Regions from separate parts of the Homo sapiens genome. Here region 1 is linked to region 2. The links come from fine-mapping of genetic effects on plasma protein levels. A gene starts in region 2. The other region holds a variant in brackets. All regions are shown on one strand. Distances are between the middles of the regions.

Region 1 (8,298 bases), 14 kb after region 2:
CTTCCAGGAACTGGGAGCTCATCGCCTTCCAGGACAGTTCATCCCATCTCTGGGCAGCTTAATCTATCAGAAAGCTCCTTTTCTTATTAAGCAAGAATCACATACACAACATTCACACTCTAGGTTATGTAAACAGGATATCCTTTAGAAGTGTACATTTCTATTACTGAGGGCTTCTAACACAATAATTAATCCAAAAAGCTACGCTTTGGAAAGCAACTATAAACTTAAAAAGAGCCCCAGGAAGAGCTCCTTCCTACCCACCTTCCACTCTTGAAAATACAAATGCAGTTTTTCCATGAACATGTTGTGACTTCATGGTCAGAGACTGGTGTCCTGAAAACCGTTCTAGAGCAAAATGCAATTGACGGTGAAAAGGGCAGAATCTGCTGGGAGGAGACTGGTTTGTTGCTAAGTTAACGTATGCAGATAGAAACAGACCATCTTCCCCAGCTGTCTGAGATCCAGATGAGAGAGGAGGGCACGGTCTCCAGCTTTACATGGTGATAAACAGAGAAAGTACTTGGGAACATCAGAGCACAGTTCCCAGAATCCCTGGCCTGTTGCTCATTGTCCTGTTTCTAGGACATCCGTCACCACTAACCATAGCATTAACCTACTGACTTTCTTTTTTTTTTTTAATTGTATTTTAGTAGAGACGGGGTTTCACTGTGTTGGCCAGGCTGGTCTTGATCTCCTGACCTTGTGATCCGCCCCCCCTTGGCCTCCCAAAGTGCTGGGATTACAGGCGTGAGCCACCACGCCCGGCCAACCTACTGACTTTCTAACACATACGACTGCTCTAATTTCAGTTGGCCTCCCTGCTCTGCCTTGAGGATTGATAAACAGACATCCTCTCCTCTGTTGGCTTCCTAGGAAGAGCACCCTGATGCCTTAGCACCCTCCCTTTGGTGCCTCCATCTCCACACCTTTCCCCTTCTCCCAAGTTCATGGGGCCATTGGGAGTCATCTAGAAAGCAGGCTCATTCAAAGAGGTGAAAGTATTGCATCCAATCTAAGCCCCCAGCTTTTAAGACACACCACTGCGTTATATGCCACTAAGAAAGGAATGACACTGCTAATTGTCAGGTGACATCAATTGTGAGATATGCATTTCTTCACATTTAATGTCTCTGAAATCTGGGCATACCTGAGAATCACTGAGATAAAGTAAATGTTTCTTCACTGCCTCCTTTTACTTGGCCTACATTGAAATCCCCCACACTCACTCAGAGGCTTGCTGAACTAGAGGGAGTCTCTGGACTCAGGCCCCTTGATGGGACAGGCGATGTCACATGATATCACTGAGGCCCAAAGAAGGGGAACGCTTTTATGTCTCCTTGTTTTGAATTATTTTCAGTGATCAAGTCCATCCTCATCTGTACCTTTGGCCCTTCTCGTTTTAAAAAGAAGTGAATCTGCCAGGCACGGCGGCTCACGCCTGTAATCCCAGCACTTTGGGAGGCTGAGGCAGGTAG[A/G]TTGCCTGAGGTCAGGAGTTTGAGACCAGCCTGGCTAACATGGTGAAACCCCGTCTCTACTAAAGATACAAAAAATTAGCCAGGCGTGGTGGTGCATGCCTGTAATCTCAGCTCCTGGGGAGGCTGAGGGAGGAGAATTGCTTGAACCGGGGAGGCAGAGGTTGCAGTAAGCCGAGATCGCACCACTGCACTCCAGCCTGGGGGACAGAGCAAGACTCCATCTCCAAAAAAAAAAAAAAGTGAATCTTCTTTGTGTGTTGGGTTGTTTTGTTTGTTTTTCCATTCTCTTTTCTCCCTTTCTTTGGAGACTGGGAGCAGGAATTGGTCTTTCAGGCCATAGAAGATAGTCAGAGATAGTGTTGAAGTGCAAGGGCCTAACATACTGTCCCATCCTGGAGCTTGTCAATTGCGGCTTCTTATCACCCCGCTGCTCTCTTCCCCTGCTTGGCCTCAGAGACAGTCACAAGGGAAAGGCCAGGCCATGGAGCTAGGGTCTAGCCTGCCTTTGAGAGCCTCTCTTACCAGAAATCACGGTGTTGGCTGCCACGGTCCTTAGTGGCACAAATCTTGCCTTTCGTTGCTTATTGGCTTTCAATGAGTTGTTTTTCTTTTCTCTTTTCGTTTTTTGTATTTTTTCTTTTTTTAACTCACTGCAGAGCTGATGGAACTGTGAATCAAATCGAAGGTGAAGCCACCCCAGTTAACCTCACAGAGCCTGCCAAGCTGGAAGTTAAGTTTTCCTGGTGTAAGTATCCACTTTTCCCAGGAGGATTCAGGGACAGGAAATATGCAAACTGAAGGCTAGCGCCCCGGCTTGGAGAATTCCTGAGACACCTGAGTGTCATCTATAATCACTCAGCACATAATTATCTGTCAAACACTTACTACATGTCACGCACTAGGGTTGCCATGATGAGCCGGACAGAGCTGGCCTTGGTACTTATGGAGCTCACATCCCAGTGTGGATACTGACACGTGACCCCGCAATTTACTATAACTAGCTAGCGTTTCAACAGGTGAAACACAAGTAGGTGCACACCGGGTGTGGGCTGCAGAAGACACAACCCAGTCTTGTTTCCCAAAGGAAACTGGGGCCCGAAACATTAGCAGATATTAGCAGAACAACCTGCACGGCGCAGAAACTAGGAAGCAAGAGATGACAAGAGTGACGGCAAGTTTGAATCCTGCTTCTGCCACTTTCCAGTCACATTGTTGGGGATCCTGTGAGATACCTAATGACAGGCATTTGCCTCTGGGTTCTGAGCTAACTGAGGAAGGGACACAGGCAATAGAGAAAGCACCAAATATTAGTTTTATTTCCGACGAAGATACACTAGAGAGTTCAACCCAGAACTGTGAGGCTTTCTAACACGAAGAGTGCTTGAAAGCCCCTTTCCCACCTGCAGGGTAGACACTGAAGTCATCAGCTACAAAAGTTACTCCCTGCACTTCCTACTTCTCATCTCTGCCACTCCTCCACCCCACACCAGTCAAGTGCCTAGAGCGGGGAGGAGAGGAAGTTCTAATTTTATAGACCAAGAAAGGAATGCTGGGAGGAGAAAACAGTTCTTCTCACACTATGAATATGGACAACTAACTTCACATGTACAAGCCAGAAATAACTGCCCAGTGTCGTGAAAATAAACCAGATACACACGCTCTGTAAACTGTAAAGGGCTTTATACACAGTTTCTCTTGTTATTTTTATCAAGAAGGGAGCTAAAGTGCAGGTGGGCTGAGTGACGCAGGCCATCACTGAACTCATTAGAAGTAGAGTTGGGACCTAAACCTAGGTCTCCAAACTCTCAACTGAGTATTTTTCCCATAGGGATCAGGGACGGGGATTGGAGTGAAAGCTAACTATTACATGCATAACAAGGATTAGATGTTTGCGTTAGGCCTTGTAGGATTATGGGAGATTATGGAAAAGGATTTCCAAGTGAAGGGAACTGGAACATAGAAGAAGGCCTGAATACAGGCATATCACGAAGTCAGGAGTTCAAGACCAGCCTGGCCGACATGGTGAAACCCTGTCTCTACTAAAGATACAAAAAATTAGCTGGGCATGGTGGCGTGTGCCTGTAATCCCAGCTACTCAGGATGCTGAGGCAGGAGAATCGCTTGAACCCAGGAGGTGGAGGTTGCAGTGAGCTGAGATCGCGCCATTGCACTCCAGCCTGGGCGACAAGAGTGAAACTCCATCTCAAAAAAAAAAAAAAAAAAAAAAAAAAAAAACGAAGAAGAAGAAGGCCTGAATAAAGAGGCCTAGAGCCTGGGAGTGTACATGAAGAGGGGCATGAGGTTAGGAAGGGCCTTGAATGCCACATTAAAAGGCTTGAAGTTTCTTCCATAAACAATAGGAGACTGTCAAAGTTTTCAAATAAGGAGAGACATGTGAAGTTTTCTGTATTGTATCTGGGTAAATTTATTCTTCGGAACTGGACCACGAGAGGAAGGCAGAATGTGCCAGCCTGGGTGAGTGCAGGTGGGCCATGATGCCGCTGCTGGCAGAGGTGGGAGACAGATTTTTGCAAAATCACTCTGGGCTTAAGAGTTCTCAGTCCACCTGGGAATACACAGAGCAGCTGAAATGTGCAGATGGGTGATGACTATAACGCTGTCTCTCTCTCTCTCTCTGTCTCTCTCTCTGGGTGAGTGAGGCAGGCAGGCAGGCAGGGCACCAACAGTGCTAGAAAGGGTAAGTCAGAAACACTCAGTCTAGGCTTTCGTCCAAACTTCTTTCCAGGGTCTTTCTGTTTCTGGATTGATAAACAAAATCAGAGGTGGGGGGCTTGGTGGGTGGTTGTCTGGGCCAGCCTTCTTGTGTTGTCCTGAGATTTCTCTTGCCCTCTCCCTCCAATAATGCTGCCTCTCTCTGGTTCTCAGTTATGCCATCGGCACCGTACTGGATCCTGGCCACCGACTATGAGAACTATGCCCTCGTGTATTCCTGTACCTGCATCATCCAACTTTTTCACGTGGATTTTGCTTGGATCTTGGCAAGAAACCCTAATCTCCCTCCAGAAACAGTGGACTCTCTAAAAAATATCCTGACTTCTAATAACATTGATGTCAAGAAAATGACGGTCACAGACCAGGTGAACTGCCCCAAGCTCTCGTAACCAGGTTCTACAGGGAGGCTGCACCCACTCCATGTTACTTCTGCTTCGCTTTCCCCTACCCCCCCCCCATAAAGACAAACCAATCAACCACGACAAAGGAAGTTGACCTGAACATGTAACCATGCCCTACCCTGTTACCTTGCTAGCTGCAAAATAAACTTGTTGCTGACCTGCTGTGCTCGCAGTAGATTCCAAGTTGGATTAATTATTGTGGGTTTTTCATTATAAGCTTATGCTTAGAAATCCTTAAACAGGCTGGTTGTGGTGCCTCATGCCTGTAATCCCAGCACTTTGGGAGGCTGAGGCAGGAGGATCACCTGAGGCCGGGAGTTCAAGACCAGTCTGGGCAACATAGCAAGACCTCATCTCTACAAAAATGTTTTTAAAATTAGCTGGGTATGGTGGTGCACACCCGTGCTAGCTACTCAGGAGGTGGTGGCAGGAGGATGACTTGAGCCCAAGAATTCGAGGGTACAGTGAGCTATGATGGCACCACTGCACTCCAGCCTGGGCAACAGAGCAAGACCCTGCCTCTAAAAAGAAAAACAGAAAAAAAAATCCTTAAGCAGTTATGTTGAAAAAAACCAAGCACTGAATTGTCCTCATTTAAAGGTAACAATCCTGTTTCTGGAGTGGGGGAAGCTGATGGCAAAGGCGTATTCTGGGTGACCTGAATCCAGATGCCCCCGTTCTGGAGTAGATGCTGCTTTCAGGGTGAATTACTTGGGCGTTCGGAGTCCCTGTGGGGCAGTTTCTTTGAAGTGTTTACTTTCTCCTCGGGTCTTCAGAGCCAGGCTGAAGAATGAACCCATCTAGGGGTTTATGTAAGGAAGAGGAGAATCTATGAGGAAGAACATAGGGAGTTTCTTTTAAGGAAAAAAATACATATATATATGTTGTCTTTCATTCAACTGATATTTACGGAAGCCCAATCGCATTCCAGGCATTGAAAAATACAGAATCCCTGTCCTCCCACAGAAGCTCACAGTCTAGTGAGGGAGAAACAAATAAAGATGCCGTTATAATCCAAGGTGAAGAATGCAAAGGCAGAGGCACACAGAGGGTGCCAGGGAGCTCCAGGAAAGTCCCAACCCCTGCCAGACACAGGTGGGCAGTAGGGTTGTGCAGCTACACCTATGAGCACTCCAATTTCCCAGGACCAACAGGTCTCAAGAACGTCTTTGTGGCCGGGCGCGGTGGCTCATGCCTGTAATACCAGCACTTTGGGAGGCCAAGGCGGGTGGATCACCTGAGGTCAGGAGTTCAAGACCAGCCTGCCCAACATGGTGAAACCCTGTCTCAACTAAAAATACAAAACTTAGCCAGGTGTGGTGGCGGGCGCCTTTAGTCCCAGCTACTCAGAAGGCCGAGGCAGGAGAATCGCTTGAACCCGGGAGGCGGAGGTTGCAGTGAGCCGAGATTGCGCCACTGCACTCCAGCATGGATGACAGAGCGAGACTCCATTTCAAAAACAAAAAAAACCTCCTTGAGTTTGTTTTTTAACATTGTGACTTGTAAAACCAGAAAGACCTCAGAATGATCGCCCTGTAATTTAACTTAGCTCACATAACTGACAATTTACTAATGTTTTGGGAAATGAATAGAAAATTCAGCCATTTCATTAGATTTTTGCTTTCTTAGCATGAATATGAAATGTTCATTTTCTGGAGCACTCGAGTCTCTTTGATGCTTTAATGATTACAAAAATCCCAAGGATTTTAATATATACAATTTTCATTTAACTAAATAAATACGACCTCAGAATATAGCTTCCAATTCTAAATCCCAAAAGGCTGAAAGCCGTTAGCAAAAAGGCAGTGAGGAGGAGGTGGGCATGGAGGGAGGAGGGCCTCTCCTGGGCTCTGCCTGCGGCCACACCCTACACTCTGACACACTGGCCCCACCGCCCCCCGCCAGAGGGCATTTGGCTCCTCTGCTGAAAGACAGTTATTCCTGAGTGTTGCTCTGGGGAGCTGGCTTTTATCTCAGGCTACAAAATAAGTTGTGATTTCGTTCCTCTTCATAGCTGTCTAGTAACATCTAAAACAATGAATGTCACTATATTTTGCAACATTTTTCATGTCTTGACCAACACATAGGTTCATTTTTTTTTATGTGAATGAATTACTGAATAGGTAGATAGACAAATGGACTGGAGTTTTTGGTAAGGAAGGAAAAGGAATTTATGAGGCAGGTGTCAGGGGTAACCGAACCTGAGAAAAATTTGGGGGAATCACAGGGCAGTATGTGAGTACCAAATGTCTAGAGGAAACATGGGGACTAACAACAAAAAAATCCAGAGGGGAGAGAAAGAGAAAGGAAGTAGGACATAAACCACAAAACAGAGGCAAAGTGTATCATAAATCTCACGCACCCATCATCAGCTCCAGCAGTATATATAAAATATAAAATCATCTTAAATTCCAGAGAGATTACATTCTCTGAGCACCTCCAGGACAGAAAACATAACCTTGCAATTTTTTGTTGTTGTTTAAAAAGTGTATTTGCTAGAGATTTCATCAATCTTGCTTCAGCTTTCAGCACCCCCTAACTTTTTTCCTAAAGTGCTTTGAAGCAGATCCCACGTATCACATCCTATTATTTTGCCCATAGCGACTTCAGTAGAAATCTCTAGCAAATACAGACCCTTTTTAGACAACAAGAAAAAATTGCAAGGTTATGTTTTCTGTTCTGGAGGTGCTCAGAGAATGTAATCTATGGAATTTAAAGATTATTTTATATAATCTGGAAGATGAAAAGGAAGAAGTATGCCCAAAAATGTTCATAGTTTTATTGTAGCCGTCCCCAAGCTGAAAGGGGCGATAAACTAAAGCTAACAGCAGAGGAAGGGTCATAAATCATGAAACAGCCACTTGATGTGATGTCATGTGTTCATGAACATTTGTAGTTGTAAGAACTACGAAGCCACACTCACTGCCGGGGGAGGTAGGGGGGTCCCAGCGCACGGCCTCACTGCCCTGCAGAGCTAGAATCTAAAGCATGTGGCTCTACCTCCCCAGCCACCCCTGATTGGACCAATATGTGTCCACCTGAGCTAGCAACAGCCAATCCACAGGCTGAACAGAAACCTCTGACTTCTATGGCCTCGCTGGATGGAAATGATAAACTGAGACAATCAAATAAGAGTTTGACTTTAAGCAGTCTGGAAAGAGGATCATTGAAAGCTCTGGTACTGCAAGGTCATGTGGCTTGTAGTGGCCACTACCGGCCATGCACTACTGAAGTGATGTGTGCGGAACAGAAACGCAGGGTAAGCAGAGATCCCCCCGCCCACCCAAGGCCCCCGACAGCAGCTTCAGTAGCTGTTGGCTCTCCCTGCCCTAGCACCAATTCCTGGGGAGCTTAGCCAGCTTAGGCGCCTGTCCTTGGTTTCTCTAAGATTAGGCACGTACACACAACTATTTTCTGAGACAATTTAACTTGACTGAGTAAATCTTCCTTGCAACCAGAATAGTCCTCAGACAAAAGCGTTCACAATATAATGTTGAGTGAAAGAATGCTGCATTTTAACTATGCTGTATTTATAGCCTCATGAAATGATGGCATAAAATTAAGAACTAAAAGTGAACAGAGGAAATGAAGGCAATTAATGTGTTAGCGTGGTGGAATTATGGGTAATTTCTCCCCCTCTTATAGTTTTGCGGCTGCTACTTACAGTGGAGGCCCTAAAACTTCAG
Region 2 (8,287 bases):
GAGGGGGACATTTGAGCCGAGTCTTAAAGAGTGAAGGTGCACTACTGAAACCTCTCAGTCTGCATTTTCACACGAAAAGTACATTTGTGCGTCCCCTTTATTCTAACTGACAAAAGAAAAATCACTTTAGAAAGGCATACAGGATGACTCTGGTAGTTGAAAGAACCACTTATTAAGAAATAAAGAATTCTTCATCCAGAAACATGTTTTTTTAGGAGATGAGATAGTTCTCTATTTCTTGCCACAAAGAGTCCATTCAAATAACTGCATCTTCCCTGCGGGTCTGAGAGTGAAACCACTGAGGCAATCACCTCCATGATGAAAGATCATCACCCAACAAAGAACTGCTTTCCGGAAAAACCACAGACCACAGACTGTCTCTTCAAGAAATGCGCTGTCGCCTGTAATCCAGCACTTTGGGAGGCCGAGGCGGGCAGATCACGAGGTCAGGAGATCGAGACCATCCTGGATAACACGGTGAAACCCCGTCTCTACTAAAAAAAAAAAAAAATTAGCCGGGCATGGTGGCAGGCCCCCGTAGTCCCAGCTACTCAGGAGGCTGAGGCAGGAGAATGGCATGAACCTGGGAGGCAGAGTTTGCAGTGAGCCGAGATCCGGCCACTGCACCACTCCAGCCTGGGCGAGAGCGAGATTCTGTCTCAAAAAAAAAAAAAGAAAGGAAAAAAAGAAATGTGCTCTCAGGTAAAAGCAAGATTTTGCAGCAGGTGAAAGAATGAGGTAGATCTATGTGTACTGATATAGAAAGATAGATACATTGTTACATTAAAAAACAAGTTTCTTGGCTGGGCGCAGTGGCGGTGGCTCATGCCTGTAATCCCAACACTTTGGGAGGCCGAGGCGGGTGGATCACCTGAGGTCAGGAGTTTGAGACCAGTCTGGCCAACATGGTGAAACTCCGTCTCTACTAAAAATACAAAAATCACTTGGGTGTGGTGGCGGGCGCCTGTAATCCCAGCTACTCGGGAGGCAGAGGCAGGAGAATCACTTGAACCAGGGAGGCTGAGGTTGCAGTGAACCAAGATTGCACCACTGCACTCCAGCCTGGGTGACAGAGTGAGTGAAGGTCGGTCTCAAAAAAAAAAAAAAGTTTCAGAACATTGAATATTGTTATTATTACATAGGGATCTGTATAGAAAGATCTAGAGGAATAATTACAAACAAAATAATGCTTATCTCTGAGGTGTGGGATTATGAGGTGCTTACATTTCCTGAGTCCTGCATTTTGGTGCTATTTTAATTGTTTTGAACAAATGTGTATTTATTTTGGGACTTAAAAATAAACACTTGCTTAGAAGATAGGTCTGATTTGTTTTATGCTGCTTAAGAATTTGTTACTGGCTATACATTCCAGAAACATGTGAAGAGAGGATTTCCCTAAGGAATATATCACTTACCAATATTTACAGAAAAAATGAACTGAGACCTAGGAAGATCGTGTGGCTTTTCTCCCGCTGTGACTCCTAGACCTGGACCTTCAGCTCCATGGTTGCCGACTTCAGTGCTGAGGGCTAAAATACATAGATATCTCCAACTCCAACATACATATTTGGAAACTTAGGCAACAGTGCTTTGTGGAAAACTGTGCAACTGCTTAGAGGAGAGAGAATTTTTTGTAATAGGCTGAAAAGAGGCTAACTGTGTATTTCTTCAATGACAGGCAATTCTTGGTGGCAAATGTGATACAGGTGAAGAAGACAGAAACATACAGGCTAGTGCTTCTCCAGAAATACAATTGAAATCAAAATCGCGTGAATATTACCTCTGGGGCCTTTTGTATATCTTAGAAACTCATTAAGTTCTTTGGATAGCATCCATTTAATTTATAAGTATTTACTGAGCACTTAGTATGTGCTTAGCCACTGGGGCACAACACAGAGTCAAAGAGACAAACTCCTGGCACGCCTCAAGCTCCTATCCTCCTGGGGAAAACATACTAAGCAGGATAATGTATAAATAAAGGAGAGAATTTCAGGTAAAGATATAATGAAGCAGGGAAAGGGACAGTGACAAGAGTGCTATTTTTGAAAGGTCAGGAAGCTTTTTAGGGAAAAGTGTCATCTGATCAGGGACCTGGAGTGGGGAAGGGAGCTACACAGAGCTCTTAGGGGAGGGCAGCACAGGAGGTCAGCGAGAGGCAGGCCCTGGGTGGTAGTAGGAATTTCTTATGTTTCTGAAAAGGCAAAGAACATCTTAAAGAAAGCGCTCACAACGTTTGGGATGTTACGGATCTGTGTTGTTGTTTTCATGTTTATAGACTCAGTGCTGTAAATGTATCTCTGTTGCTTACATATTTTAGAATGAATTTCATTTAGGAGTCTAAGTCTACTACGAAGGCACTGCCTTATCTAAATGTCTCTAAACATACCTCCTGCCTATCACAAAGACATAGAATCTCACTCACAAGAGTCAAAGTTGTTCATTCCACCAGGAGAGATAAGGCTGGACCAAAAGCACCCCTGGGTTTAAGTCCACACTCCCCACCACCCCGGCCCCCACCCCCAAGCAGTGACAGACTGTCTTGAACTTCTCGCTGCAAGGGTCATAAAAGGGACAGAGAACAGAGCGACAGAAGATGTCTTCTGCATTCTCAACTTTTAGCCCCAGTTGTTAGAGAACTGGTATCTCCCCTACACGTCTGGCTCTGGTGGAGAAAGAATGACAGCCCCTACTTACAACGAGGAGACTGTGGCTCAGAGAAGTTAGGGGGCTGCCCAGGATCCTGGAGAAAGCCAGCTTTGACTCATAACCCTCGCGCCATTACCTGACTCCCATTAGTGGAGTCAGGAACTCCATGTTCCACTTCAGGAAATGAGCTTGTTGATTTTTCATTTACACAAAAATGAAAAATAAATACCAGATGTTTGAAAACATGTTGCAACACGTCCTGCTGGAACTTAAAAGTGCATTCTGACCAAAAAAATTAAATTAGAAAATCCACATAGCAAAAAAAAAAATGTTTTGGATGAAAATATACTTTATCTTTCTCTCACACATACTCTCTCTCTCTCTCGCACACATACCCACACACACACACACACACACACACGCGCGCGCGAAAACAATATCTCATTTCTTCTTCAGGGAGCAGCTGTGAAGGAAATCGGGGGAGGAGGATGGACACAACATCCCATCTTTGTGTTTCGATACAGACTAAGCTTTTAGGCCAACCCTCCTGACTGGATGGGGGCGGCGGGCGTGGCATGCATGAAAAGTAAACATCAGAGACCTGAAGAAGCTTATAAAATAGCTTGGGAGAGGCCAGTCACCAAGACAGGCATCTCAAATCGGCTGATTCTGCATCTGGAAACTGCCTTCATCTTGAAAGAAAAGGTATGTACTGTAGTTTTAAGCTTTTCATTTATGATAATAATGTCTAAAATAGAAACAGTCTAGACTCTCCATTGCCCCATTTCAGCTACATATAACTACCACTGATTGAGAGCTTGTGCCGGTAGCTTTAGACTTGTTCTCATTTTTCCTCAAACAAATGTACAAGGTAGGTATCATCAGAGCCATTTTTCCAGTGATAAAGCTGAGGTTCAGATACACTAGCAACATGCCTAAGATAAAACCAAACCCAGTGTGAACTCATCCCAGCGTCTTTTGCTTACCCCTCCAAACTGGACAACGAGGTGTTTCCATGCACAAACACCGTCCTAGGTGAATTCTCAGCAAGCTGTCCAACGGTGCATCGCAGTAAAATAATCTGGAAACTGGAATTAATGGTGTGACTAGAAAATGCATTTGACAATATGGCATAAAATATTGTGTTTGGGAGATACGTGTCTTGTTATATTTAATGGCTAAATGAGTCTTTGAGACCTAATGACTTATTGGAACCTATTTTATTTTATGAGGTGAAATTTCAAAATCTAGTCCTTCACGTTCTGCAGATCTTTGAGGTCAGGGGCTGTGTCCCCAGGCACTAAGAGCGCGGGCTTGTGGGAGACCTAGGCTTACATTCTAGCCTGTCCCCAGGCCTAGGCTTACACTGTGGCTTCGTAGTTTACCAGGAAGTAACCCGGGCAAATTCACCTCGTTGGTATGAAGAGAGTGTCAGCAGAGGTCGCCTCCAGAGGAGGTGCTGTGGAGACTGAGCGCATAGCACCCTTAAAATCCTGGGACCAGGGCTTCTCCACGGGTAAGCTTAATGCAAGTGGAGCAGTGATTTCCAGCTAGTGCCAGGCCCAAGGTGGATGCACTGTCACCTTAGTTGGATTGCTTTTTAATTACCTCATATTCTGTTAAAAATCATATTTCTTTTTTTTTTTTTTTGAGACGGAGTCTCACTCTGTCACCCAGGCTGGAGTGCAGTGGCGCGATCTCGGCTCACTACAGCCTCCGCCTCCCAGGTTCAAGCCATTCTTGTGCCTCAGCCTCCCAAGTAGCTGGGATTACAGGACTGCACCACCATGCCCAGCTAATTTTTGTATTTTTTGTTTGTTTGTTTTTGTTTTGTTTTTTTGAGATGGAGTTTTTGCTCTGTTGCCCAAGCTAGAGTGCAATGGTGTGATCTTGGCTTACTGCAACCTCTGCCTCCCATGTTCAAGCAATTATCCTGCATCAGCCTCCCGAGTAGCTGTGATTACAGGTACTTGCCACCACACCTGGCTAATTTTTTGTATTTTTAGTAGAGACGGGGTTTCGCCATGTTGGCCAGGCTGGTCTCAAACTCCTAACCTCAAGTGATCTGCCCACCTCGGCCTCCCAAAGTGTTGGGATTACAGGCATTAGCCATCATGCCCGGCCAAAAATAATATTTAAATTATACTTATTTTGTAAAGTATTTAAACTCCTCATAAGAACAATCTTCCTATTGATATCAGAAGAAGATGCAAAAATATATGTCGTATATAATCCATATGTTACCCAAAGTCTTAAGTACACATTAATAACATGCTCAATAAGTAATGAGTAAATTAGAATGAAAGGACATTGAAAACTATAATGGATGCTGTCCGCCCTTTCTCTCACAAGGAGTTTTTTTGTTGTTGTTGTTTGTTTGCTTGTTTTGAGACGGAGTTTTGCTCTTGTTGCCCAGGCTGGAGTGCAATGATGCAATCTCAGCTCACCACAACCTCCACCTCCCGGGTTCAAGCAATTCTCCTGCCTCAGCCTCCCGATTACAGGCATGCATGTAATTACAGGCAGCATGGGATTACAGGCATGCACCACCATGCCCAGCTAATTTTTTTATTTTTAGTAGAGATAGGGTTTCTCCATGTTGGTCAGGCTGGTCTTGAACTCCCAACCTCAGGTGCTCCACCTGCCTCGGCCTCCCATGGGATTACAGGCTTGAGCCACCGCACCTGGCATCACAAGGAGTTTTAACCACAGGAATAAAACTAATGTAACCAAGAGGCATCTTTGGAAGAGGGTCAGTCAAAGGGGTTGTTCTGAAATCCTCCTACTGAGGTAAAGAATCTGTTTCAGCTCACAAGAGAGCATTTTGTCAGAGTAAGATGTAGAACTGACTTTTGTTGCAGTGTCATGTGGTGGTGAGACTCATCAGGTCACAGAGGTGGGGGGTTATTGAAAGGCCCTATGGCGGTGCACAGAAGAAGCAGATTCGGGGTGCTGCAGACAGGAGAGGGGGAGATGGAGCTCGAGTCCCAGCTCTCTGCCCCTTCCAGGCCCCAGCTTCCCCATCTGTACACCTTGGAAGTAGAGCTAGAAAGATGACCTCTAAGGTCCTATCCAGTGTGGGGACCTTGTGGAATGTGCATAGTGTGTGGCCAGTCTTTGAGGTTTGATCCTCTGGGCCAGGCTTTCAGCTTGGGCCTACTAAGTAGAATTCAAGATCTCTTTAAAATGGATGCAAATTTGTGTGGGTTTAGGCTGCATTTCTATAAATTCATCATCCCCCAAAAGGTTAAAAGACAGGTTTTGTTTATACAGTGGTGGAGCCGATGAGAAACGGAACCTCAGAGACCAGGGAAAGTGGCCCTGTGGCAGACTTGCTCAAAGGGGCCTCAGCAACCATCTCCCCCTGCAGCAACCCCAGCTGGCAAGCTGCCACTCCTTACATAACTGTTCTTTGGAAAACCAGGCAACAAAACCTCCAGGGGAAAAAAAGCTATTGATTATTAAAGGGTATTTAGAGGTTTAGAGACTCACAATAAAGCAGTTATAATTATTCCTGTAATGACACATCCTTCGAAATGCTCAGATCTGAGAACATTTTGCTTGCATTGCATCAGTCATCATCATTACAGGGAGAAATGCAGAGAGCTGGAAATAGCTCGTGTGCAAGCTACAGGCAAGGAGTCACAAGGAAAGGAGCAAATTGACAGCGAGTCAGTGAAGGAAACAGGGGAGCTTCCAATGCCCAGAACCTGCACACAGTCCTGCAGCCTCTGTCTCCCTGCCTTGCTGCCCCGCTTCAAAGCCAGCTTCTGCTGCCAAAGGACTCTTGGGGTTGAAATGCTTGTTGCACAGTTACACATCAGCTGACAGTCCTTCTCTGATTTAATGAACTTCATCTATGAAAAATACCCTCAACAGGCCGGGTGCGGTGGCTCAGGCCTGTAATCCCAGCACTTTGGGAGGCCAAGGCGGGTGGATCCCCTGAGGTCAGGAGTTTGAGACCAGCATGGCCAACATGGTGAAACCCTGTCTCTACTAAAAATACCAAAATTAGCCGGGAGTTGTGGTGGACACCTGTAATCCCAGCTACTCAGGAGTCTGAGGCAGGAGAATCACTTGAACCCGGGAGACAGAGGTTGCAGTGAGCCGAGATTGTGCCACTGCACTCCAGCCTGGGTGACAGAGTGAGACTCCATCTCAAAACAAAACAAAACAAAACAAAAACCCTCAACAGAATGTCAAAAAAAAAAAAAGAAGAAAGAAAGAAGAAAAGAAAAGAAAGAAGAAACCTGGGAAATACCATCATCTTTCTGCTTTTGATAATAACAATAACTAGCATTTATTGAGCATTTACTCTGTATCAGACACTCCTCTAAGTACTCTCTGTATATTATCTCATTTAATTCTCACAAAAATTCATGAGCTAGGAATGATAATTATTCCCATTTACTAGACAAAGAAGCTAAGGCATAAATTGGACACAGTTATACTTAGTATGGGGCAGAGTCACAATTTGAACCTGGCTGGGGTGACCCTGGAGCCCCCAGCAGGCCGCTCCCTGTTAAGGTTTCCAAGCGCACTCTTGGGCTGGTAGAACAGCCAGCAAGACGAGGGCAGGGGGAGGGATGGTGTCAGAGAGGCATCTCCCTGAAGAATCTCAGAGGACACTAAGTGTTGGGCAACATTTGGTTTGGTTTCGTGTCTTTCGTGGTTCACTTGGAGGCTTTAATCCCCCACTTTACATAGCCCTCTCCACGCTGTTTCTGTTCATTTGACAAGTATCTACTGAGCCGACACTTTGAGGTCCGTGGGTGATTCTGAGGAGAACTAGACACAGTGCCCATCCTGGGAGATGCATAATTAGGTGGGACAGGGGTGAAAATCAATCCAACAAACCAGAATACCAGGCAGAGAGCGCCCTCGTGGAGGTGCAGAGGCTCTGAGGAAGGCCTCACAGCAACAAGGACAGGCAGGTGTTCCCCTGCAGGATGAGGGTTCACATGGGCTGGGGAGAGAAGAGGAGGGACCGCCCACAGAGGGGACCATGGGCACAGCACTCTTACTTCATGATTGTGTGGCCTTAGAAGGCTCAGAATGACAACCCCAGCTGCTTTGCGTTCCCGCAGCTCCAGGTCCCTTCTCCAGCCACCCAGCCCCAAGATGGTGATGCTGCTGCTGCTGCTTTCCGCACTGGCTGGCCTCTTCGGTGCGGCAGAGGGACAAGCATTTCATCTTGGGAAGTGCCCCAATCCTCCGGTGCAGGAGAATTTTGACGTGAATAAGGTAAAAGGCGAACCTCCCGTTTGTTTTGCTGCCTCCGCTGTGAATAAGCGTTCTACAAGGTTCAATGTAATTATGCTGCTTTAATTTCCACTGCACACCTTGGGACAAGTATTTATCTTATTTGGGGTTTCCCCAAAGCAGACATCTGCTGAGATAAAGACTGCAGGCAGAGAGGTTTGGGATGATCCCGGGACGCACGAGAGCAGGTGGGAAGGTGAGTCGGAGACAGCACAGAAGCAATAAAGGGTGCGTTCCTGAGCTGTCGCCCTGGGCCGTCAGGGTCAGTCACACTGGGCACCCTCTGAGGACACGTGGAGCATGCCCCTCCGATTGTCCCACAGCTGCTGCCAGCAGGTCATGGGAGCATCCGTGGCTCTAGCTGAGCCCCCTGGCAGAG

Evidence for each region. PIP is the posterior inclusion probability: the model's chance that the variant is causal. Protein levels are from the aptamer-based SomaScan assay of Sun 2018.
Region 1: its variant is fine-mapped to the plasma level of the APOD protein (Sun 2018, PIP 0.95).

The regions. Positions count from the first base shown.
Region 1 is chr3:195,565,202-195,573,499 of GRCh38, reverse strand. It overlaps APOD (apolipoprotein D), which reads left to right. Exons shown (of 5, transcript NM_001647.4): 4 at 2,135-2,223; 5 at 4,365-4,795. The coding sequence ends at 4,600. Among named protein-coding and RNA genes, the nearest start is that of APOD, 15 kb to the left of the region's middle. The variant A/G (reference allele first, on the strand shown) is at 1,479.
Region 2 is chr3:195,578,942-195,587,228 of GRCh38, reverse strand. APOD (apolipoprotein D) reads left to right here and starts at 3,289. Exons shown (of 5, transcript NM_001647.4): 1 at 3,289-3,351; 2 at 7,734-7,890. The coding sequence starts at 7,768. RefSeq lists an enhancer at 3,669-3,838.